3 separate regions of the Homo sapiens genome follow, and all the other regions are linked to region 2. The links come from fine-mapping of genetic effects on gene expression. A gene starts in region 2. Each other region holds a variant in brackets. All regions are shown on one strand. Distances are from middle to middle.

Region 1 (10,312 bases), 34 kb after region 2:
CCTGGGTATTTGTGAATACCTGAATAAACTCCTTTAATCCAAAAACAAACTCCTCCTGAAAGAAACTGCCTGAAAAGGCCTTTCATAGAGTGTTTCCCAACTCACTGGTTCATGGTTTCTTTGGATTTCACTGTGCTTCCTGAACTAATGGTCTCTGAATGCATTCCCAACTGTGGCTTCCTGGTCTACCGAGGTCCCCAGCACGAGGTCCCTGGCATTAAAGGAGAAGAAGGAAAAAAGTAACACAGCAGATGCTTATAGGAGTTGCCAGGACTGGATGGGTTGAAACTGAAAGGAAATACATGTGGGTGAGAGTGTTACGTTGTTTCGACAATTTTTATAAGAAATGCTTCCCCAGGTAGTGCTTTAAAAACAAAGTTACAATCACACAGGACACACATGTGGGGTGTAGCTTCTGCTAGATGGAAAGCAGATTGCTTGAATTAGCACTGGAAGACCTTAACTACAGAACCTGATGACTCTCTTCTAATTGACAGATTTGCTTTAAGATTCACAACTTGAATTGGAAAAAACATCTGTGTTATTGAGATTACAGTGGGAGCACTAAGAAAGCCCAGAATTGACTTGGGAACTTCCCAATGGCCAGCTGATATGTTCAGATTGGAGCCCTGGACTTGGAGTTGCCAGATTCTAGGGTGAGAAATGGCATGTTCACGTCCTAGCCTTGTAAACCTCAGCTCATTACTTCCCTGCTTTGCCTCTGTATCCTGATCTCCAAAATGAAGGGGCTAGGTGAGACCAGGGGAACTTTCCTCCAACAAATCGAATTCCTCTCACCTGAGCAAGTAGGGAGGGAGGGAGGGAGGCTACCAGAACCCCCACCATGAAGATTCTCACCCTGCCCTCTCCCTGCCTTCCAGGGATCCCTGGCATGGTCTAGTTTGGTTACTATTGCTACGTAACCAATTACCCCAGAAATCAGTGCTATCAAACGATTGCCCTTTTACTTTGTTTACGATTTGGTGGGCTGGGATTTAGAGAGGGATTGACTGGGCAATCATCACTTGGAGTCTCTCAAGAGAGTGCAGCCAGGTGTTGGCTTGGACTGCAGGCAGCTGGAGGCTTGACAGGCCGCATGTGTGTCCAAGGTGTCTTGCTCACGTGGCTGGTGTTGATGCAGGGGCTGTCAGCCAATGCATCCACATGTGGCCTCTCCAGCATGGCGGTCTCAGGGTTGTCAGATTTCTTACTTGGTGGCTGGCTTCCTCCAGAGCAAGAGTTTCCAGAGAACCAGGTGGAAGACATGTGGCCCATGTGACCTAGTCACAGGAGTCACACAGCCTTACTTTCACCACATTCTATCGATGGTCAAAGGGCCACCAAATTCAACCACAGGGAACACAGATCTCCCTCTCAGTAACAGGTGAGGCAAGACCATGTTGTGGGAGAGCCTACAGGCATCAGGGTATGATTGCGGACATCTTTGCAAATCATAGTCCACCTCAGGTTCCAAGAAACACAGTTGGAAAACAACGAGGTTAGACGGTCTCTAACGTCTCTTTCTGTTAGAAAAGCAAAAAACTCTAAAAGGGCAACATTTACTTGTCCAGACTCTTTCTTTTTTAAAGAGCTTTACTCCTTTGGGAGGCCGAGGTGGGCGGATCACGAGGTCAGGAGATTGAGACCATCCTGGCTAACACAGTGAAACCCTGTGTCTACTAAAAATACAAAAAATTAGCCTGGCGCAGTGGCGGGCGCCTGTAGTCCCAGCTACTAGGGAGGCTGAGGCAGGAGAATGGCATGAATCCAGGAGGTGGAGCTTGCAGTGAGTCGAGATCGCGTCACTGCACTCCAGCCTGGGCAAGAGAGCGAGACTCCATCTTAAAATAAATAAATAAATAAATAAATAATAAATAAATAAATTAATTAAATAAATAAATAAATAAAAATAAAGAGCTTTACTGGAGTGTGCAGGCCTCCCTTGTTTTATTATGCATTTAAGTGCTTTACTGTCTGTGTTTCTTACAAACTGAGGGTTTGTGGAGACCTTGCATGGAGCAAGTCTATCAGCGCCATTTTCCCAACAGTACGTGCTTATGTCATGGCTCTGTCACATTTGAGTAATTCTCACAGTATTTCAAACCGTTTCATTATGATTACTTCTGTTATGGTGATCTGCGATCGGTGAGCTTCGTCACTATTGTAATTGTTCTGGGGCACCATGAACCATGCCCCTATAAGACAGTGAACTTAATCAATAAATGGCTTGTGTGTTCTAACTGTATCACTGGCTCTTCCCCCATCTCTCTCCCTATCCTTGGGCCTCTCTATTCACTGCAACATAATAATATTGAAATTAGGTCAAGGAATCATCCTACAGTGGCCTGTAAGTGTTTGAGTGAAAGGAAGAGTCACAGGTCTCACTTTACACCGAGAGCTGAAACGATTAAGCTTAGTGAGGAAGCCATGTCAGAAGCCAAGGTACGCTGAAACTAGGCCTCTTGCACCAAACAGTTGGTCAAGTTGTGCATGCAAAGTAAAAGCTTTTGAAGGAAATTAAAAGTGCTACTCCAGTGAACACATGAATGATAAAAAAGTGAAATAGCCTTACTGCTGATATGGTGAAAGGTTTACGGTCTGAATAAAAGATCAAACTAACTACAACATTGCCTTGAGCCAAAGCCTAATCTGGAGCAAGGCCCTAACTCTCTTCAATTCTGTGAAGGCTGGTGACGTTCAGTGTTTTTTCATGTGCTTATTTACCATCGGTGTAATCTCTTCAGTGAAATGTTTCGTCATGTCTTTTGCCTAATTGGATCGTTTGGTTTAACTGAGTCTTGACAGTTCTTTATATATTCTGGATACTAGTCCTTTTTCAGATATGTTGTTTGCAAATATTTTCTCTCACTCTGTGGATCTTCTTTTTATCCTTAGAAAAGTATCTTTCAAGAGCAAAAGTTTTTAATTCTGATGCAGTTGAATTTATCAATCTTTTTCTTTTGTGGATTGTGCTATTGGTGTTAAGTCTTAAGACCTTTTTGCCTAGGCCTATATTCCTAAGACATTTTTCCCGAAAGTTTCATAGTTTTGTATTTTACATTTAAGTTCATTATACATTTTGAATTGATTTTTGTATAAGATGTGAACCTTACATAGATGTTGATTTTATTGCCTATGTGCTATTCTCTGGCACTGTTTGTTGAAAAGTCTCTTTTTTTCTCCATTGAATTGCATCTTTGTTAAAAATCAGTTGGGCATATTGGTGTGGTTCTATTTCTGAGTCTCTATTCTGTTCCACTGACATATGTCTATCCTTCCACCATTATCACTGCCTTCTTGATTACTGTAGCTATGTAGTCACCCTTGACATTGGGGAGACTGATTCTTCTCACTTTATTCTTCTTTTTTTCAAAATTATTTGAACTTACCTAGTTTCTTTCCATTTTCAAATAAATTTTAGAATAACCCTGTCCATCTGTTAAAAAATTCTGCCGTTATTTTGATATTAATTGCATTAAACTTGTATATCAATTTGAAGAGAATTGACCTCTTTACTATGTTGAGTCTTTCAATCCCTGAATGCAGTATATCACTCCATTTATTAAGACCTTCTTTGATTTCCTTCATCAACATTGTATATTTTTCAGCATACAAGGTATGTGTTTTGTTACGTTTACTACATCGTTTGAGCAATTATAAGTGGAATTGTATTTTTAATTTTGGTGTTTATTATTCTGGCTAGAACCTATAGCACTACACTGAATAAGAGTAGGGAGAGTGGACATTCTTGCTGTGTTCTCAATCTTAGGGGGAAAACATTTAGTCTTCCACAACTAAGTATAATGTTATCTGTAGCTTTTTGTAGTTGCATTTTGTCAAGTCAGGAAGTTTCTCCCCTATTTCTATTTTTCTGAGCTTTTTTTAAAATCACAAACGGATGTTGAATTTTATCAATGCTGTTTTTTGCATTGATTAATGTGAATATGTGATTTTTCTTCTTTAACTTGTCAGTAGGGTGGATTATGTTCAATACTCATAATTTTTGAGTATTGAAACATGCCTGCATCCTTGGAATTAATCCTACTTGGTTATGGTGTATAATTCTTCTTATATATTACTGAATTCTGTTTGCCGATATATACTCAAGAATGTTTGCCTCTACATTCACGGGGAATATTAGACTAAAATTTTATTGCCTTTGTCTGGTTTCTGTATTAGTGTAATACTAGCTTCACAGAATGAACTGCAAAGTATCCCCATCTCATGTATTTCTCAGAAGAGACTGTATAAAATTGGTGTTAATTCTTGTTTAAACATTTGGTAGAATTCTCCAGTAAAGCCATATGAACAAGATTTCTTTTGTGGTAATTTAAAAATTATTAATTTAATTTTTAAAGTACTTATAGGACTATTGAAATTATCTATTTCATACTGGGTGAGTTGTGACTGTGTTTTTCAAAATGAGGGGGATGTCCTTCTATTCCTTGTTTTCTCAGACTTTTTTAAATTAGGAATGAATGTTGGGTTTTGTCAGATGCTTTTCCTGCCACTATTAGATTATCATGATTTTCTTTTTTCTCTCTTTTCTTTTTTCTTTTCTTTTCTTTTCTTTTCTTTCTTTCTTTTTTCTTTCATGGAGTGTCACTCTGTCGCCCAGGCTGGAGTGCAGTGGAACAATCTCGGTTCACTGCAACCTCCGCCTCCCTAGTTCAAGTGATTCTTCTGCTCAGCCTCCCAAGTAGCTGGGATTACAGGCATGTGCCACCACGCCCAGCTAATTTTTGTATTTTTAGTAGAGACAGGGTTTCACCATGTTGGCCAGGCTGGTCTCAAACTCCTGACCTCAAGTGATCCGCCTGCCTCGGCCTCCCAAAGTGCTGGGATTCAGGCATGAGCCACCGCACCCAGCCATGATTTTCTTGTTTAGTTTGTCACGATGATGAATTACATTGATTGATTTTCAAATAAACTAATCTTGCATTCTTGGGACTCACTTACATGTGATGCATTATCCTTTGTTGGGTTTGATTTCCTAAAATTTTATTTAGAATTGTTGCTTCTTTGTTCATGAGGAATATGGCCCTGTGGTTTTCTTGTCTTGTAATTGCTTTGTCTGACTTTGGTATTAGGATAATGCTGACCTCATTAAATGAATGAGAAAGTGCTCTCCCCTTTTTGGTTTTCTGGAAAAGTTTATGTAAACTTGGAATCGTTAGTCTCCTTAAAGCCTGGGTAGAATTCATCAGTGAAGCCATATGGACCTGGAGTGTTCTTGGTGAGAAGGTTTCTAACTACAAATATAGTTACTTTCATAGATAGGACTGTTCAGGTTATCCATTTTTTCATGAGTTAACTTAGTAGTTTGTGCCTTTCAAGCAATTTGTCCACTTTCCCCAAGTTGTCTGTAAGATCTGCAGTGATGTCAAGAATCTCGGGCCGGGCGCGGTGGCTCACGCCTGTAATCCCAGCACTTTGGGAGGCCGAGGCGGGCGGATCACGAGGTCAGGAGATCGAGACCATCCCGGCTAAAACGGTGAAACCCCGTCTCTACTAAAAATACAAAAAATTAGCCGGGCGTAGTGGCGGGCGCCTGTAGTCCCAGCTACTTGGGAGGCTGAGGCAGGAGAATGGCATGAACCCGGGAGGCGGAGCTTGCAGTGAGCCGAGATCCCGCCACTGCACTCCAGCCTGGGCGACAGAGCGAGACTCCGTCTCAAAAAAAAAAAAAAAAAAAAAAAAAGAATCTCATCCCTGGCCAGGCTTGGTGGCTCATGCCTGTAATCCCAGCACTTAGGGAGGCCGAGGCGGGCGGATCACAAGGTCAGGAGATCGAGACCATCCTGGCCAACATGGTGAAACCCTGT[G/C]TCTACTAAAAATACAAAAAATTAGCTGGGCATGGTGGCATGTGCCTTTAGTCCCAGCTACTTGGGAGGCTGAGGTCAGAGAATCGCTTGAACCTGGGAGGCGGAGGTTGCAGTGAGTCGAGATCACGCCACTGCACTCCACCCTGGCGATGGAGCGAGACTCCGTTAAAAAAAAAAAGAAAAGAAAAGAAAAAAAAACTCTTCCCTAATAATTGGTAATTTGTGCCTTTTCTCCCCTTTCCTGATCAACCTGGTTAGATGTTTATCCATTGTATTGATCTTCTCAAAGAAGCAACTTTTGGGTTCATTGTTTTTTTGTTTGTTTGTTTGTTTTTGTTTTGTTTTTTGAGAGGGAGTCTCACTCTGTTGCCTAGGCTGGAGTGCAATGGTGCGACCTTAGCTCACTGCAATCTCTGCTTCCCCGGTTCAAGCGATTCTCCTTCCCCAGCCTCCCAAGTAGCTGGAATTACAGGTGCCTGCCACCACGCCCGGCTATTTTGTTTGTTTGTTTGTTTTTGTATTTTTAGTAGAGACAGGCTTTCACCACGTTGGCCAGGCTGGTCTCAAACTCCTGACCTCAAGCGATCCGCCTGCCTCAGCCTCCCAAAGTGCTGGGATTACAGGAGTGAGCCACTACACCTGGCCCATTGGTTTTGTCTAGTGTGTTCTTGGTCAGAATCTCCCTGGAAACAAAGGACACTCGCTCTTCCTCCTTTCCTCTTGTCTAAGGAATTCTCTAAGAGAACTAGCTCACTTGAACCTTGTCGAAGGCTAACCTTCAAAATAAATCCACCTACCAACTCTTGTTTTTCTCAAAACTCTCAGCCAAGTACCACAGTTTCATGTCACAAATAATTTTTTCGAAGGTGCAGCATTCTGATCACATTCTGCAGAGAAAACGGATGTGTAGCTTTTGAAATATTCTGCCCCTTACAGAAAAGCTTCAGTGACAGAGATGTGATAATATGGGATGTCCATTTAGTGACAGGGATATTCTTGAGCCGGCTCTGGTTTTTGCTAACATGTGACCTGGAGCAAGTGACTAACAATCTCTAAGCCTCAGTTTTCTTCTCTCCAAAATGGGAATAATAATGGGGTTGTTGAAAGACCCACTTTGATGATGAATGCAAAACCTCAGTGCAGAATCTGGATGTGGTAAGCATTCCATTAGCAGTGGCTATTAAAATATGATAGCAAGGGTTATGGTCTGGGATTCCACTCCCTTTACTACTGGAAAGGAAGGATTTATGGTCTTCCTTTTCTTCTGTTGATGTTGGAGCCAACATTTATTGGTTGTAAATGTTAAAAATATAAACCTGTGGTGGAAATCCACGGACTGTGCATTTCATCCCATTATGGACTAGTCTATGGTCACACCTGGTCAAGCACCAAAGTTTATATTTCCAACACCCAAAATACACTTTAGTTATAACAAATATTTCTTCAGGAAGTTTGACAACTCTGCAGCCATGTCTCAGGAAGAATATGGATCCCGGGAATTTGCCCAAACTGGCCTTCCTGGGTGTGCAGTTGTATTCTCATAGCTGGGGAGGACCGGCCCAGGGGGCGGGGGTCCAGCAGGCCCAGTTGTGGTGAGGAGGCCTCTGAGGCCATGCCAGCTGGCCCGCTCCATGAAAGAGCATCTCACTGCCTCTCAGGGAAGCAGGTGGACGTGAAGCCCTGCTGGAGACGGGGAGAGTGGGGGGTGTGAGAAGCTGTGGGAAGGGGAGGGCTGATGAGCATGATATGGGGTGGGGCCGAGCTGGGGAGAATGTAAAACCCATAGCACCTTCTGTGACCTTCCTGCCATGGAGAGGGGCAGCCCCACCCCTACCCCACTGTACAGGGCGAGGCTCTGCAGCTGCATCCTGAGTGGGGCATGACAGACATGCTGCTGTGTGACCTCCCAGGTGGGCTAGGAGAGGCCAGGCCACCTCTGCCCAAGTTTCTTGGGACACTCACTCTGGGAGCCTCCCACTGCCACAATAGACATCCAATCACCCTATGGCATATATATATATATACACACACACACACACACACACACACACACACATATATACACACACACACACACATACACACACACATATATATACACATATATATACACACATATATATATACACACATATATATACATATAGAGAGAGAGAGAGAAAGAGAGAGAGAGAAACAGAGACACAGAGAGAGAAACAGAAATGGAGAGAGAGACAAAAAGAGATAGAGAAAGGGACAAGAAAGATGGACGGAGAGAGAAAAAAAGATGGAGAGAGAGAAAGAGAAATGGAGAGAGACACACAGAGAGATGTAGAGAGAGAGACAAACACAGAGAGAGAAAGAGGCAGACAGAGATGGAGAGAGAGACAAAGAAAGATAGAGAGAGGGACAAGAGAGAAATGGAGGGAGACACAGAAAGATGGAGAGAGAAACAGAGAGATGTGGAGGGAGAGACAGAAACACACAGAGAGAGAACGAGGCAGGGAGAGATGAAGAGAGAGACAGAGAGATGGAGAGAGAGACATAGAGAGAGGGACAAGAGAGAAATGGAGGGAGACACAGAAAGACGAAGAGAGAGGCAAAGAGAGATGTGGAGGGAGGAAGAGACAGGTAGGGAGAGGCAGATGGAGAGGTGGAGAGAGGGAGGAAGAGGGAGAGGTGGAGACAGGTGGGGAGAGGAAGATGGAGAGAGAACCTCCAGCAGCTGCAACACCGGCCATTTTGGGTCTTCCCAGCTGGGCTCCAGCCTTGTGAGGGAAGAACCCGAGAGATGCCCCAGCCTGGCACGTCTCACTGCCCTGGCCTGAGGACCCTGAGGGAGAAGTGCTGGCTGAGTCCAGTCAACCCCAAGACTTATGAACAAAATCAAAGAAGGCTGTGGATTTTCTTACCACGTGGGGGACAGAGGGAGCCAGTTGTCACCCAGTGAGAGGGAGCTGGAATGTAAGCCATGGCCTGGCCGGAGCTGCTTAATCTCTCTGGGTATCTGGGTCTCCATCAGTCAAATCGGAGTCATGGTGCAGATTTCTGAGAGCTGCCGTGAGAATCCAGTCAAATAGCAAGCGCAGGGTCCCCTGGGGTGCCCGCCTCCACGTGGGCACAGTGCACGGCCCCACCCGACAGTCTTCCTCCACAGCCTCCCAGCACACTCCACCTTTCCACAGACTTGGTTTCACTTCCTTTTGCTTATCACTGCATGGAACGGTCTTCCTCCCTCCCTCCCTCCTTCCTCTCTCCCTCCCTCCTTCCTTCCCTCTTTCCTCCCTCTCTCCTTCCTTCCTTCCTCCCTTCCCTCCCTCCCTCCCTTCCTTCCTTTCTTCTCTCCCTCCCTTGTTTCCCTCCTTCCTTCTTTTCCTTCTCCCCTCCTTCCTTCTTTTCTTCCTTCCCTCCTCCTCCCTCTCTTTGCTTCATTCATTGATTGTTCCCTCTCTCTCACCCTCCCACATAACACACTCAAGGAAAGGAACTTGGTCGTGTTCACTGTCCTCTGCCCTGCAGTGGGGCCTGGCACCCCACGGATGTGCTATACGTTTTTGTCAAATAGTTGAGCCATGGCTCTCCTGGGATGAGCATGGGTAGGAGGAAGGGACATACACGTGCCCAGGACCTGCTGGAGACTTGAGCAATGCAGCCTCTCCCTTTGGGAAGGCCCCTGCATGTGGTGGAGGGCAGGGATGTTTGGAAGGCACTGACCTGGCTCCCGGCTGCCAGGGCCAGCCTGGTGCTGGAACCCCTCATACCTGAAGAGGCACAGGAGAACCAAAGGCGGAGAGGCCTGCATCCTTCAGGGCGGCTGGATGGGTGTTCCGGGTGCGTGCCACAGTCCAGCAGAGTCTTACTTTCTCATGGTTCTGGAGGCTAAAAGTCCAAATTCAACTGTTGCTGGGTTTGGTCCTTTCCAGGTGCTCCTGTGGTCATATGTTCTGCGCCTCTGTCCCGCTGCTGGGGGCTCCAGCCAACCTTGGTGCTCTTTGGCTGGTAGCTGTGTCACTCCAGCCTCTGCCTCTGTCTCCCCACGGCCTGCTCTGTCCCGTGTCTGCGTCATCTTCTCTGACTGTCATAAGGATACTTGGCACTGAACTTAGGGCCCACTGTCAATCCAGGATGACCTCATCTTAACTTCATGACATCTGCAAAGGCCCTTTTTCCAAATAGGGTTACATTCGTGGGTACCGGGGGTTCAGATGTGAGCAAGTCTTTTTGGGGGGAAACATTTAACCCACGACAGTCACCCTTCCCTGAAGGCAATGGGAAAAAAGAAGCCCAGCAGAGGCAGCTGGAATCCCAGCTCACTTGCTTCCCGGCTGGGTGACCTGAAGCTCTGAGTCTTAGTTTCTTCATCTGGAAAATGGATCATGCCACACCGTGGATGTGTGAATTAACGGAGATGGCACATAGAAAGCCAGCAGTGTTGAACTTGGCCACGTAGTAAGGCCTCGATAACCGGCAATGCAGAATTACGTTTCCCTACCAATTAGTGGCCGACC
Region 2 (10,312 bases):
GCCAATTTGTAAAATTACCCAACAGTCCAGGCAGACAAGCACAGGGATTGTTGGCCGGCTCTTGTGTGCCAACACAGCATGAAATACCTGTTTCTCAAGGACCCGGGAAGGCCATCTCCGTGCTGTGGGCTGCATCTTCCTGCTCCCCTGAAGGTTTCTAAACAACCCACTGGCCCAAGGCCAGGGAAAGTAAATGCATTTCTTCCCAGCTATGTGTAAAAGAGGTTTAGGGTTTGGGATCTTTGTATGCAACAGGCACCGCCTCGTTTCTTTTCATAAGTAGCCTTGGCCACCTCATTATTAAATGGGAGAGGATAAGATAGTGGTACCCATGTTGTGGGGCTGCATGGAGGCTGAGTGAGCATAGTGAGAATTTGGACATGAAATGCTGAGCACGGTGTTGGGCACATGCTGCTGTCCATCACCTGTTCACACTCATCATCTTCACTATCACTTAGCACCCCCAGCACACACACCCCTACCTACAAGCCCTGTTGTAATCCCTGCTTTCAGATGAGGAAACTGAGGCTCAGGGTGGCACAGCTTTTCAGCAGATGGAACAGAGCCTTAGCCCTCCAGGCAGTCTGACGTTACACCCAGAACCTTAATCTCTGCCTTAGTCCAGCGTGATGGGGCTGAGGGTGCTGTGCTGAGACTACAGAGCCCCAGGTTCAAGTTCCAGCCTTAGACAGCCTTGAGCAACTCACCTTACCCACCACCCCATGCCTCAGTTTCCTCGTGCATAAAATTGGGAGCTCTTTTAGGCAATGTTAAGACTTCTCCTAGCTCTAACAATACGCAAGCCCAAAGAGGGCTGTGCACATTATGGCCTTTGTTTTCCAGATTCGAATGTGCCCCCCAGATCTCCACGCCGTGCAATTTCTCGGACAAACCAACTCACGTCTTCTTATTGGTCCCATGCACCCGTGGGATCAGCAGATGTAACATTCTGACATCACACTTAGAAAACTTCCCCCATCTGGATTTCTGCAACCCACAGGGAGTCATTTGCCAAACATATGTTTTACAAAACATGGGCCCACTGCACTCTGACTGGTTGTGGAGTCGATACAACCCACCTTTTCCCCAAGCACATGACTCTGGCCCATGCATGCTGTCTGGCTGGGGAGAGAGATGCAAGACTACTCATGTCAGGAGCGCAGGGTGGCAGGAAACGTGCAAGGTCACACATTGCTAAAAATGTAGGCGAGTAACGTGGTGGTAACAGACACACAACGGGGGTCAGTGTACAGTGGAGAAGAATTCTAGTGTCAGGCCAACTATTGCTGTCAGGAAGAGCATTGAGAAGCGTTTCCACATATCACCGCTCACTTTTCCAGATGACATTCAAGAGAGGAAGAGGCAGCGGACATCACTGGCCAGTGAAGTTAGGAGGCTTCGGAGGCTCCAGAGTCATGACAGATGTTTTGAACCTTGTAGCCAAACCCCTCCACGCAGAAGTTAAAATGCCCACTTTCTCTGGAGCACAACTTTTTAAAAAATTGTTTTTTTTTTATATTGTAGTAAAATATACGTAACAAAATTTACCACAATAACCACTTTCAAGCGTGTAGTTCTGTGGTGTTGACTGTATTCATACTATTGTACAACCATCACCACCATCCACCTCCAGAACTTTTTCATCTTCCTAAGCTGAAACGCTGTCCCCACTAAATTATAACTCCCCATCTCCACCCCATAAGTCCCTGGCAATCACCCTTCTACTATCTTTTTCTTTTTGTTTTTCTTTTTTTTTTTTTTTTTTTTTTGAGATGAAGTTTTACTCTTGTTGCCCAGGCTGGAGTGCAATGGCACGATCTTGGCTCACTGCAACCTCTGCCTCCTGGGTTCAAACAGTTCTCCTGTCTCAGCCTCCTGAGTAACTGGGATGACTGGCGCATGCCACCACGCCCAGCTAATTTTTGTATTTTTAATAGAGACGAGGTTTCATCATGTTGGCCTGGCTGGTCTCAAACTTCTGACCACAGGAGATCCACCTGCCTCGGCCTCCCAAAGGGCTGGGATTACAGGCGTGAGCCGCTGCGTCCGGTGCCTTCTACTTTCCGTCTCTATGATTCTGCCTACTCTAGGTGCTTTATCAAAGTGGAATCACACAGTGTTTGTCTTTGGTGACTGTCTCTTTTGCAGAATGTCCCCAAGCTTCATCCATGTTGTAGCAGGTGCCCACCCTTCATTCCTTGTTAAAGCTGAATAATCCTCCATTACTTGGATGCACCATTTTCTTTCTTCATTCATTCACTGATGGACACGTGGGTTGCTTCCACCTTTTGGCTATTGTCAATAATGCTGCAGCGATTCCCAGGCTGGCTGAGTAATTGGTAGTCTACAAAGCTGCTTGGCACAGCGTCCCCAATCTATAGAGAGTAGTTGTGGGTTCAAAGAAAACCCACAAGACTTTAGAGCCAAAATACATCTGGTTTCCAATGTTTGACTGGCCAGCTGCAACTTTAGGCAAATTTAATCCTCCTGAGCCTCACGCTGCTCATCACCAAACTGGGAATTACAGTAGACAGCACTGGTCGCTGTCCCAGCATCCACACTACCTCCTACATCCTAAGCGAATTCTGATTTCTTTTTTCAACTTTCTTCCACGCCCAGGTGATCTCAAGGGGCTGAGACATTCATAGTTCCAGGGATGGGGCAAGTCCCGCCCCCTTGGCAATGATTGGTTCAGACACCCAGGCTTCAGCTAATCGGTTTCTAGCAGTGCCTTAGCAACTGTTGCTAGTGTTAAGCCCTTGATCTGAGTGGCCCAATCAGGTAGAGGATGGGCTTTTATTCCAAGTTGGAGAAATGACGCTCCTCGGAGCTAGGAAATGAACAAGAGTTTCTGCAGCTGCTGATGCTGCCACCATCCCGCAACAACGAGGGAAAGAGCATGAGAACGAAGCCCAGGCACAGAAGAAAGGCAGCCATAAAAGTGTCAGAAAAACGGAGCCGGAGCCTGATTATCCTCCTCATCTTGGTACACACTCACACTCACACACTCCCTATGTCTGCGGACTGACAGTCAGAATATTCAAGCAAAACAGATCTCCTTAAATGGCAGTGACCTTACCTGAAATTTAACAGGCCTGAATTTACCGGTCTAAGGTCAACCAGGAAGGCTGTGTGCCTTCAAGCCCACCACTCAAAGACGCCAACCAATTCACCTGTCTCCTGTATGATTCTGGGTTCACACACATGGGTGCACAGACTCCCCCGAACACACACACACACACACACACACACACACGCACCTGCACGCATGCACACACACAATTAGGTTCAGAAATTAAACCTCAAAGTAATAGTAGGCCTCAATTATCCTACATAGCTGTGAAACAGATAGCCTGTTAGCTAGTCACTGGAGTACTGCTTGAAATAGAGATTTATTGCACAAAAAGCAGCACATACAAAAGTTTCTATGATCAGTATTACGGCTGATTGTGAAATAAGACATCATTGGAAGTGCACCAAAAATGAATAATGCAGGGACTGAACAGAGAAGCTGAGTGAAGAGAAGCCAGATAAAGAAGGAACACATATTTTTTCAGCCCACAGCTTCACCCATTTTCAGCGAAGCAAGGATTTCCCTTAGGGTGAAGGGAGAATCCTAGGTCTTTCTATTCCATTTCCGGGCATGACCAGACACCAAAATCATGACAGAGTAAGCTTGAAAAGAAAGACTTCGTGAAGACTGTTGGTCAAGACACAACCGGGGAACAGAAACATCTCGGCATGTACAGGAGAAGGAGTTTAATCCAGGAAGGAGATTGTGGCAGGTGGAGGGTCAGAAAAGCCACTGCAGTGTCAAACCACACACAGCGAATTATTCATTCAGATCTCATGACAAGAAAACTTGGTGTCTTTGTCTACCTGGGCTGCTGTAACAAAATATCATCCACTGGGCAGCCCATGCACAACAGAGATTTATCTCTGACGGTTCTGGAGGCTGGGGTGTCCAAGATCAAGGCCCTGGCCACTTCAGTGTCTGGTGAAGGTCACTTCCTGACTCATAGATGGCACCTTCTCGAGAGTCCATATATGCTGGAAGGGGCAAGGGGCCTCTCTGGGGCGTTTTTTATTATTTTATTTTTATTTATTTAATTTTTTGAGATGGGGTTTCAGTCTTATTGCCCTGGTTGGAGTGCAATGGCATGGTCTCCACTCACTGCAATCTCTGCCTCCCGGGTTCAAGCGATTTTCCTGCCTCCGCCTCCCAAGTAGCTGGGATTACAGGCGCCCGCCACCATGCCCGGCTCATTTCTGGATTTTTAGTAGAGATGGGGTTTCATCATGTTGGTCAGACTGGTCTAAAACTCCTGACCTCAGGTGATCCGCCCACATTGGCTTCCCAAAGTGCTGGGATTACAGGTGTGAGCCACCGTGCCCGGGCTTGGGGCTCTTTCATAAGGGCACTATTCCCATGCATGAGGGTTCTACCTCACAAACCACTCACCTCCCGAAGACCTCACCTTTTGATAGCATCACATTGTAGGTGAGAATTTCAATATTCAAATTTGAGGGAGACACACACATTTGGACCATAGCACACAGTTGGGTCATAAAGCCAGGGTTCCGAGGCAAGTCTGAGGTCATCAGCCAAGGGTGTCTGCATCGGACAACACTCAACTCGGGATTGGCACCCAGCCAGTGCCCTACACTATACAAGATGCCACTGTAGGGACAGGGATGACCTCTAGCAAGGTGACCCTCAGTGGGCCAGAGGGGGCTTCTGAAGAGAATTTCTCTAGCTTCTTGGTGTTTCCTGCCTGCTACTTTCAAACAAGGGTCCCATTTTTAATGTTTTCCCAGTAATACCTTATGAATGTTATTGCAAAGGTAAAGGAAATTATATTTTTGCTCTTATTGTTGTTCACTCTACTCCCATTTAGCAATTAACATTGAAAGGTAAGAAAACCAAGAGAAAGAGAGAGATTGCAATGTGGATATAGACGCAGATGTATAGAAATATATACATAGTAGAAATAAAAAAGGGTTGGCTATGGAGAAGGATACACAGATAGAGATAGCAAGACAGTTGGATAGACAGACAGGTTTTTTTTTTTTCTTAATAATAGGAACCAGAGGATGATCAGGAGGGTGAGGAAAAGAAAAAGATGAAAGCCCTGTCTAAGATGCCCACAAGTTCTCTAGTTTGCATTTGTTCCCTTGGTGAGCAGAAGGGTGCAAGTCCTCTCTTACTGTGATGTGAGGAACCTATATCATCCCAGGGCACAAGAGGGTGAAGTTGGCCATCTGTGCCCTTCTCTGCCTTGTACCCTAGGCACGCCCCTCCTGTAGATCCCAGTTTCTCTTTCTGCCAAAAAGGGGGCAGACCTGGTGAGTAGCTAAAGTTCCTTCCGGCCTGAAGGCCCCTCAAAGGTTTTCTCCTGTGCCTTCCCCACAGCCCGGGTCTGCACTCTACTGGGATTTGCTGGGCTAGATTCTCAGAGGAGCTCAACATTGATTGAGTTCCTCGCTCCACGTTAAATCTTTGGAAAATTAACTAAAGATCTCCTAGTAAGATGCTTGTAACTTACTACATAAGGTGAAATAGTGACTTTACAGTACAAAAACTATAACCCAAGTATTACCACCAGCAGCGGGCTAAATCAACACCACAGGCCCCGTGATCAATATATGTGATGAGGACATTACATCCTGGTGTTGTTGCCCCAAGTCTTGACGTGAATCTGACCACAAGGACAATTCGGACAACCTGAAATGGTGACGCATTCTACAAAATAAACATCAATGTCATGAAAGACAAAGACTCAAGATTTTCTGCTTAATGGAGACTAAAGAGATGCGACAACAGAATGCCAGGCATGATCTTGGATATTCTTTTGGCTCAAACAGTCTTAGGACAATTGAAAAAACGTGAATGAGGTCTGTAGCTAATAGAATTGTGTCAATGCCACATCCTTGGTTTTGTTAATTGCATTGTGGTTACAGAAGAGAATCCCTTTGTTTTCAGGAAATGCACACAGCAGTATTTAATAGTAAAGGCACATCTTGTCTGCAACTTCCTCTCTGTGTGTGTGTGTGTGTGTGTGTGAGAGAGAGAGAGAGAGAGAGATGCAACAAATATGGTAAATATTAATTTTGGGGACTCTGGGTGAAGGGTATCTTGAGATTTTTGTGCTCCTCTTCTGCACATCTGAAATCATGTCAAAAAATAAAAAAGGTGTGCACTCTGCAAGGGATACCCAGATACCCATGCAGAAGAGAGAACTGATTCAAGAGATGAACCCAGGTGGGAGCCACGATGATGCCCACTGGGGAATGAGCCTGTAAATCCAGGAGAGGCTGCACCTGCAGCCCATTCCTCCAGGGTGGTTCTCCTAGACCTGCTTCAAGTGTCATGGTTTAAATTCTCAGGCACCCCTTGGGCCATACTGACATTTCTATTGGCTTTGGGCTAGGAGGAGCTAATATGCCTTGCACATGATGATAGCTTGGAGAATGTAAAAATGCTGAGCTGTTATCACACCTAATGACATGATACCTGCAAAGACGTAGTGTGTGCATGGAACAGCGTAATGGAGTCCTACAGCCTTAAGCCAGGATTTCATGTGTGATACACAGTAGTCATGGCTGAAATCTTTCTCCAGTGTGGCTGCTCCCTCCTCATTGAACACAAAGCAAGTTATACAATTCAGTTTTAGCAAATGTCTTGTGAGATGCGCTAGCACAATCTTAAAGATCATGTGTGGGTAAAAAGAACAACCTCCACCCATACCAAGCATTTTCAGTGCCAGGCCCTACCTGAAACACAACCGTGATCTCCATTTGAGCCAGGAAAACCCGAACCATGGGGAGCCGCAGAGCCCGCCCCCCACCCAGTGACTCTCCGGTGTGTCAGTGCCAGGGTCTGAAGGTACTGAGGCTTTGCAGGCATCATCTCAAGCCAGCAGGGTCTGAAGCTACTGAGGATCTGCCAGCAACATCTCAAGACGGCATGGTAGCTCCTTCCCAGCACGCCACGCTGCCCTGCACCCACTGCTAGCTTCTGTCTATACTGCACTTGGCACTGAGAGCAATCCGATCAGAGGCAGCATGCGATTGCTTTGTTCCATTTTCCCAAGGCCCACTCACAGGGCCTGTAGGTACCTGCACGGTCCAGGTCCAGGTCCGTCATTGTTCAATCGAGCCACCATGAATTGGAACAACTGCATCTTTCAATCGCGTCCTCCAATTTGCCCAGAGCCATCCGAGCACAGATTCAGAACTGGATCTTTGCCTCTCTCAACAAAGTACACTAGGGGACTGAAGCATCCAACTCAAGTGTAGTGTTTTAAATAAGGAAGAAGAACTTAAATTCACCCACTGACCCATTTCCACAATCGTCAAAGTCACATGGCTTTATCGGTATTGTCATTTCTGTGTGAAACTTAGCTCTTACATGCTTAAAAAATAAGAATAATTGTTCAGATATGCTTGGGAACCAAAGAAAGAACAGAACTACTGTTTTCCCCACATTGTCAAACTCAAACAAACACCTGTGACAGATGAGCACCGCCTACTGAGGTCGCAGTTCACCTTTCTGCACAAGAGCTGGTGGCTTTGTTCTCTGTCTGGAAGGACTTTCTGTCTCCCTGTGCTGCGTGTCCTCTGGCCTCTTGGGCCCATCCTTCGACGCCAAACTCAAGGGACATATTCAGCCTTCATCTTTGGAGGGATGCCCAGGGACAGATGTGTCCACGGGACCCCCAGCACACAGACTGACCTTTCGGGGCTTACCCTTCAAAGGTGTCGTGTCATTTCCCTGTGCCCTGACCTCCACGCTGAGTTCCCTCTTTCCTTACTGGCCGTGGCATTGCATGGGTATAAGTGATTGTATGTAAGACAGTTATAGGATTTGTTTTCTGATAATCCCTGAGTTTTATATTTCTGCCAAAAGTTATAAGTGAGCAATCTTATATATACATCTGCCAGCTCAAATGGACACAATGTAGGCACAGGCATCTTGTGTTGAGAGGCATAATGGGGCCATCCCCGGGGTCTGCAGGGAAGCAGGCAGCAATTGATGAGGGGCATTCGTCCTGGGACGAAGGAAGGCGAGAAGCAGCCAGTATTTCCTGTTCTTGATACAATGTTACCCTGCCGCAAGGGTGGAAAATCCCACGTTTAAACCTGAAACTGATTGTTCCTGGCCAGCAGCCACTCCCACATCCCCAAACCAGGGGGGTGACTTACAGCAGTGCAGTGACCTGCCTGAATCACTCGAGCTCTTGCTGAAACGCAGGTTCTGAACCAGGGCCTCCAGGGCGGGGCCTGAGACTCTCCATTTATAACCAGCTCCCGGGTGATGTCTGAGGACCACGCCTTGGGTAGTGAGGACCTAGAGTGAGTGAATGAAGAGAACTTACACAACAGCCCAGCACATTCTAATGAGAAAGGTGACACCACCTACCCCTCTATCATTCACGAGCTTAGGACAGCTGGGTACCTCGTGGCCATCCTCAGTCAGCCCCACCTCTCAGGCCAGGGCCTGCTGTCTTTGATGAAACCCCTCTGTCCCTCCCACGCCTTTGCGCCTGTTATTCTCCAGCCCACCCTAAGTCCCCCATGAGGTGCTGGATGTCTCAGGCTTGGATCTCCTCATCACTGCCTCTCTTCTTCCTCAGTACCCTGGGAGCTGCCCACGTGGGCTCTCAGTGGCCCCTGCTCTCTGGCTTCTGGCAGGGGATCGCCCAGGCAAGGCAGGCGGCGACATCCCCCTCCTCAAATGGCACTTGTGTCTCCCGGAGAACTGTGAAGTGCAGGAGGCAGGGGGCCTGGGGAAGGGCCAGTGCCTGGTGAAGGAGGGCCGCTGCTATTATTTCTTAGAACTTTTTGTTACTTTTATTAAATCTGGAGGTTCCAGCTCAGTTCCCTCCTCCATGAAGCCCTCCTGGCTTAGCTCGACCTCCCTTAGTATCTTTCTCCTTTGAATGCACTCAGGGAATAACTTAGGCCCTTATTTTGAGCCATCTTCCTTCTTTTTGCTTAGTTGCCTCCAAGGCTCAGTATGGTCCCCTCGACACGACAAGAAGCTTCGATTCACTCACAGTAAACTTTTGCCAATGAGGAAAACCACAAAACACACCTGAAACTCAAATAACTCAAAAATGGTTTGAAAACAGTCTGTTTCTCTACGTCTCTCCCAGTGTTGGTAATACGTGTTTGGGGAAAGTGTCTAAAAATAATGAAATACTTTTTAAAATCTACTTTTAAAAGAAGCTTTATCGAGATATAACTCAAGTACCACACAATTCACCCATTTAAAGTGGACAATTCAGTGGGTTTTAGTATATTCACAGAACTGGACAACCCTCAACACAGTCCATTTTGGAACATTTTTATCAATTCAGAAAGAATCTGTGTACCTGTTAACAGTCACCCTTCCTCATCCTGCTGTTTTGAGCCTGTATTTAAAACACGAGGCAGGAAAAGACCATTTTACCGATGTAAAGCCCAGGACATATTTTTTGTTTACATTGTCTTTGAGGCTTATCCCTTTTTAAAAATTCACTGGCTAAGTTTCAGGAGAATCAAATCAATGGCATGAAAACCTACCTGTTTTGCAGAACATCCCAGGTCACCTGCCTCCTTGCACACCTGAGGGTTGAAGGAGGCCATGGCACCGTGGCATCCGCCACCCCATCTGGCTTTCCCACGCCTCTGGCCTCACCCCTGTCGGAGGTGAGAGCTGGTTCCTGCCAGTCTAGAAGGAGCTTTAAGCTCTGCCTCCTATGTTGTAACAGAGCCCGGGAAGGAAGCTTCCACTTGTGAGCCAACTGCAGGCTTGACGGACTCAAAAGGGTGGTGTGGAAACAAAGAAAACACTGTATGTTGAAGATGGTCAAGACAATCACAATGCTGCCATTTATTGAATATTTGCAGAGTGTCTGGCATACTGCTAAGAACATTACATGCATATCTGGTTTAATCCTCACGACGACCTTCGGAGGTGGATCTTATTAGTTTGCCTGAGTTTACTGCTAAGGAAGCTTAAAGGAAGAGCTCTAGTAACTGCCTGGAGGGTCTTCCCTGATCTTCCCATCAGTCTAATGATCTGTTTGGATAGAAGGAGGGATCAGTCTGAACTGGATGGCCTTCTGAAGTCTTCAAAGCTCTCAAATCTGAGAATTCTGAATTCTACAAAATCTGAATCATAGGACGCCCTTTGAATAAAAGCGCTGGATCCTTTTAACCCCAAAAAGAAGGGAGATGTGCATGTGGGGGGTGTGGAGAGAGCCTATTTTTAATGTAAGTCAGGAATGTCTGCTATGTGTGGATGACATGAGGGCTCTCAACCTCT
Region 3 (10,312 bases), 18 kb before region 2:
CCATCTCATTAAAACCTAATCACCTTTACCCCGCTCAATGCCAATATCCCATCCCACAGCATGCTTTGAAAGGATTAAAGCCTGTTCTCACTCGCCTGCTACAGCATGGCCTTCTAAAACCTATAAACGCTCCATACAATTCCCCCATTTTACCTGTCCAAAAACCGGACAAGTCTTACAGATTAGTTCAGGATCTGCGCCTTATCAACCAAATTGTTTTGCCTCTCCACCCCGTGGGGCCAAACCCATATACTCTCCTATCCTCAATACCTGCCTCTACAACCCATTATTCTGTTCTGGATCTCAAACATGCTTTCTTTACTATTCCTTTGCACCCTTCATCCCAGCCTCTCTTCGCTTTCACTTGGACTGACCCTGACACCCATCAAGCTCAGCAAATTACCTAGGCTGTACTGCCGCAAAGCTTCACGGACAGCCCCCATTACTTCAATCGAGCCCAAATGTCTTCCTCAACTGTTACCTATCTCGGCATAATTCTCATAAAAACACACGTGCTCTCCCTGCCAATCGTGTCCGACTGATCTCTCAAACCCAAGCACCTTCTACAAAACAACAAACTCCTTTCCTTCCTAGGCATGGTTAGCACAGTCAGAATTCTTACACAAGAGCCAGGACCACACCCTGTAGCCTTTCTGTCCGAACAACTTGACCTTACTGTTTTAGCCTAGCCCTCATGTCTGCGTGCAGCGGCTGCCGCTGCTTTAATACTTTTAGAGGCCCTCAAAATCACAAACTATGCTCAACTCACTCTCTACAGTTCTCATAACTTCCAAAATCTATTCTTTTCCTCATACCTGACACGTATACTTTCTGCTCCCCGGCTCCTTCAGCTGTACTCACTCTTTGTTGAGTCTCCCACAATTACCGTTGTTCCTGGCCCAGACTTCAATCCGGCCTCCCACATTATTCCTGATACCACACCTGACCCCCATGACTGTATCTCTCTGATCCACCTGACATTCACCCCATTTCCCCAAATTTCCTTCCTTCCTGTTCCTCACCCTGATCACGCTTGATTTACTGATGGCGGTTCCACCAGGCCTAATCGCCACACACCAGCAAAGGCAGGTTATGCTATAGTACAAGCCACTAGCCAGCCTCTTAGAACCTCTCATTTCTTTTCCATCGTGGAAATCTATCCTCAAGAAAATAACTTCTCAGTGTTCCATCTGCTATTCTATTACTCCTCAGGGATTATTCAGGCCCCCTCCCTTCCCTACACATCAAGCTCGAGGATTTGCCCCACCCAGGACTGGCAAATTAGCTTTACTCAACATGCCCTGAGTCAGATAACTAAAATACCTCTTAGTCTAGGGAGATGCTTTCACTGGATAGGTAGAGGCCTTTCCTACAGGGTCTGAGAAGGCCATCGCAGTCATTTCTTCCATTCTGTCAGACATAATTCCTCAGTTTAGCCTTCCCACCTCAATACAGTCTGACAACAGATGAGCCTTTATTAGTCAAATCAGCCAAGCAGTTTTTCAGGCTCTTAGTATTCAGTGAAACCTTTATATCCCTTACGGTCCTCCGTCTTCAAGAAAAGTAGAATGGACTAAAGGTCTTTTAAAAACACACCTCACCAAGCTCAGCCACCAACTTAAAAAGGACTGGACAATACTTTTACCACTTTCCCTTCTCAGAATTCAGGCCTGTCCTCGGAATGCTACAGGGTACCGCCCATTTAAGCTCCTGTATAGACGCTCCTTTTTATTAGGCCCCAGTCTCATTCCAGACACCAGACCAACTTAGACTGTGCCCCAAAAAAACTTGTCATCCCTACTATCTTCTGTCTAGCCATACTCCTATTCACCGTTCTCAACTACTCATACATGCCCTGCTCTTGTTTACACTGCCGGTTTACACTGTTTCTTCAAGCCATCACAGCTGATATCTCCTGGTGCTATCCCCAAACTGCCACTCTTAACTCTTGAAGTAAATAAATAATCTTTGCTGGCAGGACTATGCTGAATCTCCTTAGGCGCTCTCTAATCAGATGTCCTGAGACATCCCAATTCTTAGACCTTTTATACCTGTTTTTCTCCTTCTCTTATTCCATTTAGTTTCTCAATTCATCCAAAACCGTATCCAGGCCATCACCAATCATTCTATACGACAAATGTTTCTTCTAACATCCCCACAGTATCACCCCTTACCACAAGACCTCCCTTCAGCTTAATCTCTCCCACTCTAGGTTCCCACGCCGCCCCTAATCCTGCTTGAAGCAGCCCTGAGAAACATCGCCCGTTCTCTCTCCATACCACCCCCCAAAAATTTTCACCGCCCCAACACTTCAACACTATTTTGTTTTATTTGTCTTATTAAGAAGGCAGGAATGTCAGGCCTCTGAGCCCAAGCCAAGCCATCGCATCCCCTGTGACCTGCACGTATATATACGCCCAGATGGCCTGAAGTAACTAAAGAATCACAAAAGAAGTGAATATGCCCTGCCCCACCTTAACTGATGACATTCCACCACAAAAGAAGTGTAAATGGCCGGTCCTTGCCTTAACTGATGACATTACCTTGGGAAAGTCCTTTTCCTGGCTCATCCTTGCTCCAAAAGCACCCCCACTGAGCATCTTGCGACCCCGACTCCTGCCCGCCAGAGAACAAACCCCCTTTGTAATTTTCCTTTACCTACCCAAATCCTATAAAACGGCCCCACCCTTATCTCCCTTCGCTGACTCTTTTCGGACTCAGCCCACCTGCACCCAGGTGAAATAAACAGCTTTATTGCTCACACAAAGCCTGTTGTGTGGTCTCCTCACACGGACGCGCATGGAAGTGATCTTTGCTATTCTGGGTTTGTCTGCTGGAGGAAGAGGGAAATCACCTATTTGATTTTGTATTCATTCATGTCCTGTTCCTGGAGAATCTCTGTTGTGTGTCAGGCACAGCTGAGCCTCCCTGTATAGCCTCCTCTATCTTCCACCTACAGAGGAGGAAATGGAGCCTCAGAATCAGTGCCTTTCTTGTTTGTAAGAAACAGCTATGAATGCCTAGCTCCCCCTCGAATTTCAGTACTGCGTCCCACCATGCCGCACGGTGCCGATGAGCCGGCTGGACCTTCATGGCAATGGTGGCCCTCTAAAAATAGGATCCCCCACCCGGAGGAATGGGGCCACCACAGGAAGCAGCTCAGACCACTTCCAGGGGACATTCTTCTGCCTCCAGTAAGCTGAGGATAGAAGTGGAGCCGCTGACGGATGAATGGACTGTTTGCCTGAGTCATAAATCAACAGGGACCAGCCCTGCCTCTGAACGATTCTGGTCTCTACACTTCGCTCCTGATCACAGGCTGCAGAGGAAGCACGTCTCCCAGGCTGGGGCCGGCATCCGATCCAACGCTGCCTTTCCCTCTAGCAGCGGCTCCCGCAGGGAGGGTCTCCCTGTCCCTAGAACCGGAGCGTGAAAGTCAGCAAAGTCCCATAAATCACAGGAAATGAACTTCTGCCTCTTTAAATTCCTGCCGCCGTCCCCATCCCTCCCACAGCCACAAATAGATTTCTTTCAATATTGGCTCTGACCTCAGCCCTCCCCGCCCCCACGTCTCCTTCTCCACGTTTTTTTTTTTTTTTTTTCCCAGCAAACCCTACAAGGCAGAACTTACCCTGCTGACCTCACCAGCGTGGTTTCTTCTGTTGTGTGTGTGTTTTTGTTTTGCTGTGATGCCGATGACTTGCGGTTTGCCTCACACTTTGTAGTGTGCGTGGCAGTCGTATAAGAAAACAGCAAATTTGTCAGTTAGGCTTGTTATTTATTACAGGAACCATGGGGATGCCAGGCAGCCAGGCTGGCCCCTCCGCCCGCCACCTACCCCACGGTTGAAGGGGCTGCACTGGCCGGGGATGCCAGACCAAGGGCCCAGAGAAGAGGCACGGCTTCCGAGGGTGAGGAACAGCGAGGTCCTGGCAGCTGCCTCTCTTCGAACACAATGTTGAGGAGATGCTTTTTGTTTTTGTTTTTAAAATTCATTTCCATTGGTTTTTGGGGAACAGGTGGGGTTTGATTACGTAAGTTCTTTGGTGGTGATTTGTGAGATTTTGGCGCACCCATCACCCGAGCAGTATCCACTGCACCTAATTCGTAGTCATTTATCCCTCACCCTCTTCCCACCCTTCCCCACCGAGTCCCCAGAGTCCACTGTATCCTTCTCAAGCCTTTGCATGGGAGGATGCTTTTAACTGGTAAAAGGCAATAGTAGAAGTAACAGCCCGAGGGCTCTCCGTGGCCAGTGCCTCCCGAGATCTCGAGGGCACCCCTTCTCCCGCCTCCCCTCCCACCTCCACCTAGGCCACACGGGCCATGCCGGCCCCAGAGCTCCCGTGCCACGGGCAAAACACAGCTGTGTCTCAAAACCCTACGCCCAAAGTGCCTTCTCCCAGGCTTCCTTCCAGCTCATCCGCCACCTTTCTCTGCACTTGGCCCAGACGTCGTCTTTCAAGTCCGGCCTCCCCTAGACCTCGGCTTCTAAAATTGCAAAGCACCCGCACTCCAACAGGCCTCCGTGCCTGGCTCTCCTCTACACCTTCGTCCCCACCTGCGTTACTGATCTCTGTGACTTACTGGCTTCTTCCCCCGAGGAGGGCATGAGCTGCACGACAATGGCTTTGTATCTGTGAGAAGCTCTAATCGTATTTGCTGTTTATTGTGGGCTGGGTTGCATCCCCCCAAACTCACACGTCGAAGTCCAACCCCCAGGATGTCATAATGTGACTGTGTTTGGAGATAGGGCATTTATGGAGGTAATTAAGGTAGAATGAGGTCACCAGCATGGGAGCTAATCCAGTAGGACTGGTGTCTCCGTAATAAGAGGAGATGAGGACACAGACACGCACGGAGGGCGACCTTGTGAGGACACAGAGAGAAGACAGCTCTTACAAGCCAAAAAGAGAGGGCTTGGAGGAAGCAGTCCTGCCG[G/C]CACCTTGATCTCAGACTTCCGGCTTCCAGAACTGTTAGAAAATAAATCTCTGTCATTTAAGCCACCCGGTCTGTGGCACTTTATGTTCAATAAATACCTATCAGATGAATAAATGAATCAATGAGCCAGGTGTGGTGGTCCACGCTTGTAATCCAAGCACTTTGGGAGGCTGAGGTGGGCGGATTACCTGAGGTCAGGAGTTCGAGACCAGCCTGGCCAACTTGGGGAAACCCCCACCTCTACTAAAAATACAAAAATCAGCTGGATGTAGTGGCGAGAGCCTGTAATCCCAGCTACTCAGGAGGCTGAGGCAGGAGAATTGCTTGAACCTGGGACGCAGAGGTTGCAGTGAGCTGAGATTGTGCCACTGTACTCCAGCCTGAACAACAGAGTGAGACTGTCAAAAAGAGAGAGAGAGAAAGAAAGATTGAGAGAAGAAAGATAGAAAGAAAGGAAAGAAAGAAAGGTAAAGAGAAAGAAAAGAAAGAGAGAAAGAGAAAGAAAGAAGAGAGAGAGGAAGGAAGGAAGGAAGAAAGGAAGGAAGGAAACTAGAACTTATCAGACACTTCACAAGTGGGGAACCGTTCCTAGCTGAGGCTTGGTGGACTTGGGAGGATATTAGTAATGCAGATGTTTTGCTCCTAAGACTCCAAGACTGTTTTGCTCCTTCATTCTTTGCACACAATTCCGTGGCCATTCTACTCATTTTTTTGAGGATAAATGATCTCAGTGGTGAAATATTGTCATGGGTGAGCAGCGACTATCTGGGGCCAGCGGCTCAGGGTAAAGACAATTGTAGGTTAAGAAAGGCAGATTTAGGCCAGGTGCAGTGGCTCATGCCTGTAATCCCAACACTTTGGGAGGCCGAGGCAGGCGGATCAGGAGGTCCTTGAGGTAAGGCCATCCTGGCCAACATGGTGAAAACCCGTCTCTACGAAAAATACAAAAATTAGATGGACGTGGTGAAACGCACCTGTAGTCCCAGCTACTTGGGAGGCTGAGGCAAAATTTCATCTCAAAAATAAAAAAAAAAGGCAAATTAGAGAAAGTAGGAAAATACACAGCAAGGAGGCAACAGGCAGGCCAGCAAGAGAGGAGCTGACTGCAAGGAGACAAAGGCTTGCTGGGGACTTGATAGGATGGTGCTTGTGCTGTGTGCTGGAGAGAGCGACGTGCAGTACTGACAACACCGAGGCCGCGGTGTGCTGGAGAGAGCGACGTGCAGTGCTGACGACGCCGAGGCCGCGGTGTGCTGGAGAGAGCGACGTGCAGTGCTGATGACGCTGAGGCCGCGGTGTGCTGGAGAGAGCGACGTGCAGTGCTGACGACGCCGAGGCCGCGGTGTGCTGGAGAGAGCGACGTGCAGTGCTGATGACGCCGAGGCCGCGGTGTGCTGGAGAGAGTGACGTGCAGTACTGACGACACCGAGGCTGCAGTGTGCTAACTTGCATTTTTCTATCAGCCAAGGGTCTAATGACAGCTGGACACAGGAAGATTGTGAGTTACTTGTGCAGCAGGACTACGTGTTCTGGATCACGAAGACAGGCAGACTTGGAGCTTCTCTGCCTTCTCTTTTTGCTTTCCCTGGGTCCTGCCAGCCTGACTCCTCATTCCTAATTAGGACTCCGGGAATCTCAACCAGCCATCAAGTGTTAGATTCTGAGCACCTGTGCAGGGCTGCAGGTGACAGTCGATAATGAGGCTCATCTTCCTCACCGCCGTGTCTTTCTAACCGTTTGGCCTTCTTCTGATGGTGGCTGCAACCTCATCAATGGCCAGCATGGAACTAACCCATTGGGTTATGTTTTCATTCCTGTTTTTCTTTACTTTGCTTAAGCAGGAAGTGCAACTGGATCGGGGAGCCTCTCCGGGGCTCTTTTTAATTCATCTCTGCGATTCTTCAAATGGTAGGTTGTTAAACCATGAAGCCAACAGACACCTGGCTGCTTACTGGATTCAAGGCACTGGGATGCTTCACTGAAAATGCCAGTTCAGGGCCCCTCCTCTCCAGGAGCCAAAATTCTGGAGTGGGGCTGGGAGACCAGAAAGAAACAAATTAAACCAGCACTCACCGCTAAAAACAAGCATTGCAAGCAGTAGTGCAATTAGATCAAAACACACAAATCAAAGATGGCTCAAGGGCTTTCCAGTGTTGAGAAGGGCTGGACCCCGCTGTTTGTGAGAACTCAGGTTTGCAACATCTGTCCTGAAGGAGGCTCTGGACACCAGGAGAGGTGAGGTGACCCTCAGTCCAGGCGGAGACGGGGAAAATGAAGCAAAGGTGTTTACCAGAACATACAAATAAGTCTGCAGTTTCCACGGCTTTGTCTGTCTGCCTGAGAGGCTCCCATTGTATGGCCTCCTAATATGCTTGTTCTTCTCAATTCAGCCATTCAGGGGTCCTTCAATCGATCTGTCTGTCACAGGGGTGATCTCTGGGAAGCACCCTCCTCTGCAGCACCTTCAGACCTGCATGTACAAAAGCCAGGAGTGAACCACTGCTCACCGCACACAGGGCTTTGCCGTGAAGCTGGACTCACAGTGCTCAGAGTGAAGTGAGAATGGAGAACAAACACGTGCATGACTGTTTTAGGAAACTTTAGGCCTGAAACAGGTCCCTGAAACAACAGAGAAACTGTGGGTTTCCTTCTCCTCTCCCCACCACCCCCTGCATGCGGCAGACACACAGGCATGCGTCTGTTTACTTGCATGAATGCATGTCTGTATCTTGACCAAAAGTTAAGTCATATCTGAAGTCTTAGCCCAAGTTTTCCACAGGGCCATGGGCACTCGGGGACAAATTTAGCCTCTAGTAAAAGAGCAAAGTCTTCTGAGGCCAAACATTAAGCCACCATTTACCCAAGGACTGTATGGAGCTGGAAGTGAATACCACATTGTCTCAAACTGTGGACTCATGTCTTTGGTGTGAAGTTTCCTGGTTTCAACTACCTCTAATGATATCCTTCCAGATGGAAGGCTAAGCCAACTTGATTTGGACCACATGTCACAGATGCTGGTATGTGACATGGTTTGAGAAGGCTCAATCTGCCCATTGATTGAGAGTGTTTTTAGGGACTCATATCACACAGGCCCTGGTAACCATTCTCCACCCACCTCCTCTGTGCCGCCGTAGGGAGGCTGCAGCCAGTAATTATGGGCTCAGCCACGGCTGGCTCTCACCCAGATGTTTACAGTCTCAGGGAGGCTGGATCCCAAATCCAGAGTGGTCACTGCAGACAGCAGAAGTAAGGAAGGCTCCAGCCTGATTGCCTGGGCTTCTGGATCCACGCTCGTCGATGGAGCTTTTGTTCCCTCATGGGGCAGACAGTCCAACAAGTGGAGAAAACGGTGGGATTTTAGCTTCCTCCTGCCTTCCAGGCATGAAATGACCCAGGAGCATTTTAGGGCACTATCCAGTAGGATCATGGTGTTGGGTGTCGTTTAAGGCTTCAGGGTATAGGGGGCCATCTAACGGAAGGACAGCTCTAGAGCTGTCAGGGTGGGCTGGGGCTGGGGCTGGCCAGGTCCCTCCAGGATGGCAGGCCTTCAACTAGTCTCCTTGAGAAGGCCAAGGTTGGAAATAAAGCCTAGTCCCTGAAAACAAGGGGGAGAAGGTGGCATCTGTGTTGACACCACCCTTGAATTTCCATTTGTAATATAACTTTTGTTTGTATCCATTAAGTCAACTGCCAAGGTTTGAATGTTTGTCCTCTCCCAAACTCCTGTTGAAACTTAATCCCCATGGTGACAGTAAGAGGATAGGAAATCTGCCTCTGCTATTGGAGAGTTGGAAGCTTTGGGATGTGATTAGGATTAGATGAGGTCGTGAGGGTGGGAAGGAGCAGCTTTCCAAGGGGAGAAAGGGAGGGCTTGACTTGCAGGCTCAGCCTCCTCACTCTGAGATGCCTGCACCCCCATGAGACCTTGCAGAGTCCCCACCAACAGGAAGGCTCTCACCAGATGCCGCCCCTTCTGGAGACTTCCCAGCTTCCAGAACTGTAAGAAGTAAGTTCCTGCACCCCCATGGGACCTTGCAGAGAGTCCCCACCAGCAGGAAGGCCCTCACCAGATGCTGCCCCTTCTGGAGACCTCCCAGTCTCCAGAACTATAAGAAATAAATTCCTTTCCATTGTAAATTACCCTGTCTCAGGTGTTCTGTTATAGCAACAGAAAACAGACCAAGACATCAACTTAATAAACAAATTTCATTTTACCTGATCGTTTAAAAGTTTAGAGAATCCCTTTTCGTGGTGTTTCTCGCTATTCCTTTTTGTACTTTTAACCAATTTTTGCTTCTTACAAAAATGGTAAAGCATGTTATTTGGGTATGTTATTTGGGGCATAAATATTTGTGATGGGTGCTTTGTCATTTTTTCTCCCTGGGTACGCACATTATTATTTTTTTATCCTGAATTTCTAGAAGTGCAATAGGACTGTCATATTATCTGTTGAGTCTGGAGCCATGTGTGATGTTACCACATGTGGCCTTGAGCCTCTCTCAGCCTCCAGCCCATAGTAAAATGCAATCATTACTCAAGGAACGAAGAAATACATGCACATCCAAGAGAAGGAACAGCCTCAGAAGTTTGGATTTCCGCGTTTGTGGGTTCTGAGTCAGGCCAGGGGAGTCAGTCACTTCCACTCCCTCACTTAGCAACTGCGTGACCTTGAGGACCATGGTCTACCTCTCAGCGTCCCTCAGGTGTCCACAGGACATTCACTGAGGCTGCTGGGCTGTTGTGAGAACTGTCCTGTTCAGGGCTCTGCACAGAACCGGGCACAGGAGCCGTCCGACGCCGTGTGCTACGTGCCTGTGCCCGGGTCTCTCTGCCCCAAACAAGGATCTGGGTCACAGCCTGTGGATTCCCTATCTGCTCACTGCACACTCCCCCACACACCCAACCTTAATACATTTTCTGAATTAATAAGCAAGGCCGTCAAGTTCTCTCCTCTTCCCCACGTCCCTTACCTGTAAGGAGGAAACACTGACCAGCTTTGGTGCTGCCCCTGTTGTCGGGCCTGGGAGCAGTGGCTGCTGTCTCACCAGCAATCTCTAATGGATACAGAGAAAAGAGTTACTGATTGACCTTTTTTTTTTTTCCTGCTTTGCAATCTCACTAAAGCATTTCCTTTCCCTACCCCCATGCAGGAAGGCGAGAGCAGCATTATTCAGTTTCCAAAGTCTGAGCTCTCCTCACACCCGCAGGACTGGGGCCTGCAGCCAGTGGGGGTGGGGGAGGGCGGTTAACACTTGCAGTGCCCCGGGGGTGGGTGACCTGTGCGCTCTCTCTCTCTCCCACGGAAACACGGAGGCCTGAAAGACGGCAGAACCGCACAGGGGCAGGACACACACGGACGCGGGGGGACGCA

Evidence for each region.
Region 1: its variant is fine-mapped to the expression of LINC02188 in aorta (GTEx, PIP 0.97).
Region 3: its variant is fine-mapped to the expression of LINC02188 in testis (GTEx, PIP 0.98).

What each region holds. Positions count from the first base shown.
Region 1 is chr16:86,681,979-86,692,290 of GRCh38, reverse strand. No RefSeq gene overlaps it. Among named protein-coding and RNA genes, the nearest start is that of LINC02189, 35 kb to the left of the region's middle. The variant G/C (reference allele first, on the strand shown) is at 5,826.
Region 2 is chr16:86,716,298-86,726,609 of GRCh38, reverse strand. LINC02188 (long intergenic non-protein coding RNA 2188) reads right to left here and starts at 4,519. Exons shown (of 3, transcript NR_135183.1): 1 at 4,479-4,519. LINC02189 (long intergenic non-protein coding RNA 2189) reads left to right here and starts at 4,651. Exons shown (of 2, transcript NR_135181.1): 1 at 4,651-4,845; 2 at 5,607-5,926.
Region 3 is chr16:86,734,509-86,744,820 of GRCh38, reverse strand. LINC02188 (long intergenic non-protein coding RNA 2188) reads right to left here. Exons shown (of 3, transcript NR_135183.1): 2 at 9,912-9,995; 3 at 6,995-7,411. Among named protein-coding and RNA genes, the nearest start is that of LINC02188, 18 kb to the right of the region's middle. RefSeq lists an enhancer at 1,788-2,534. The variant G/C (reference allele first, on the strand shown) is at 4,942.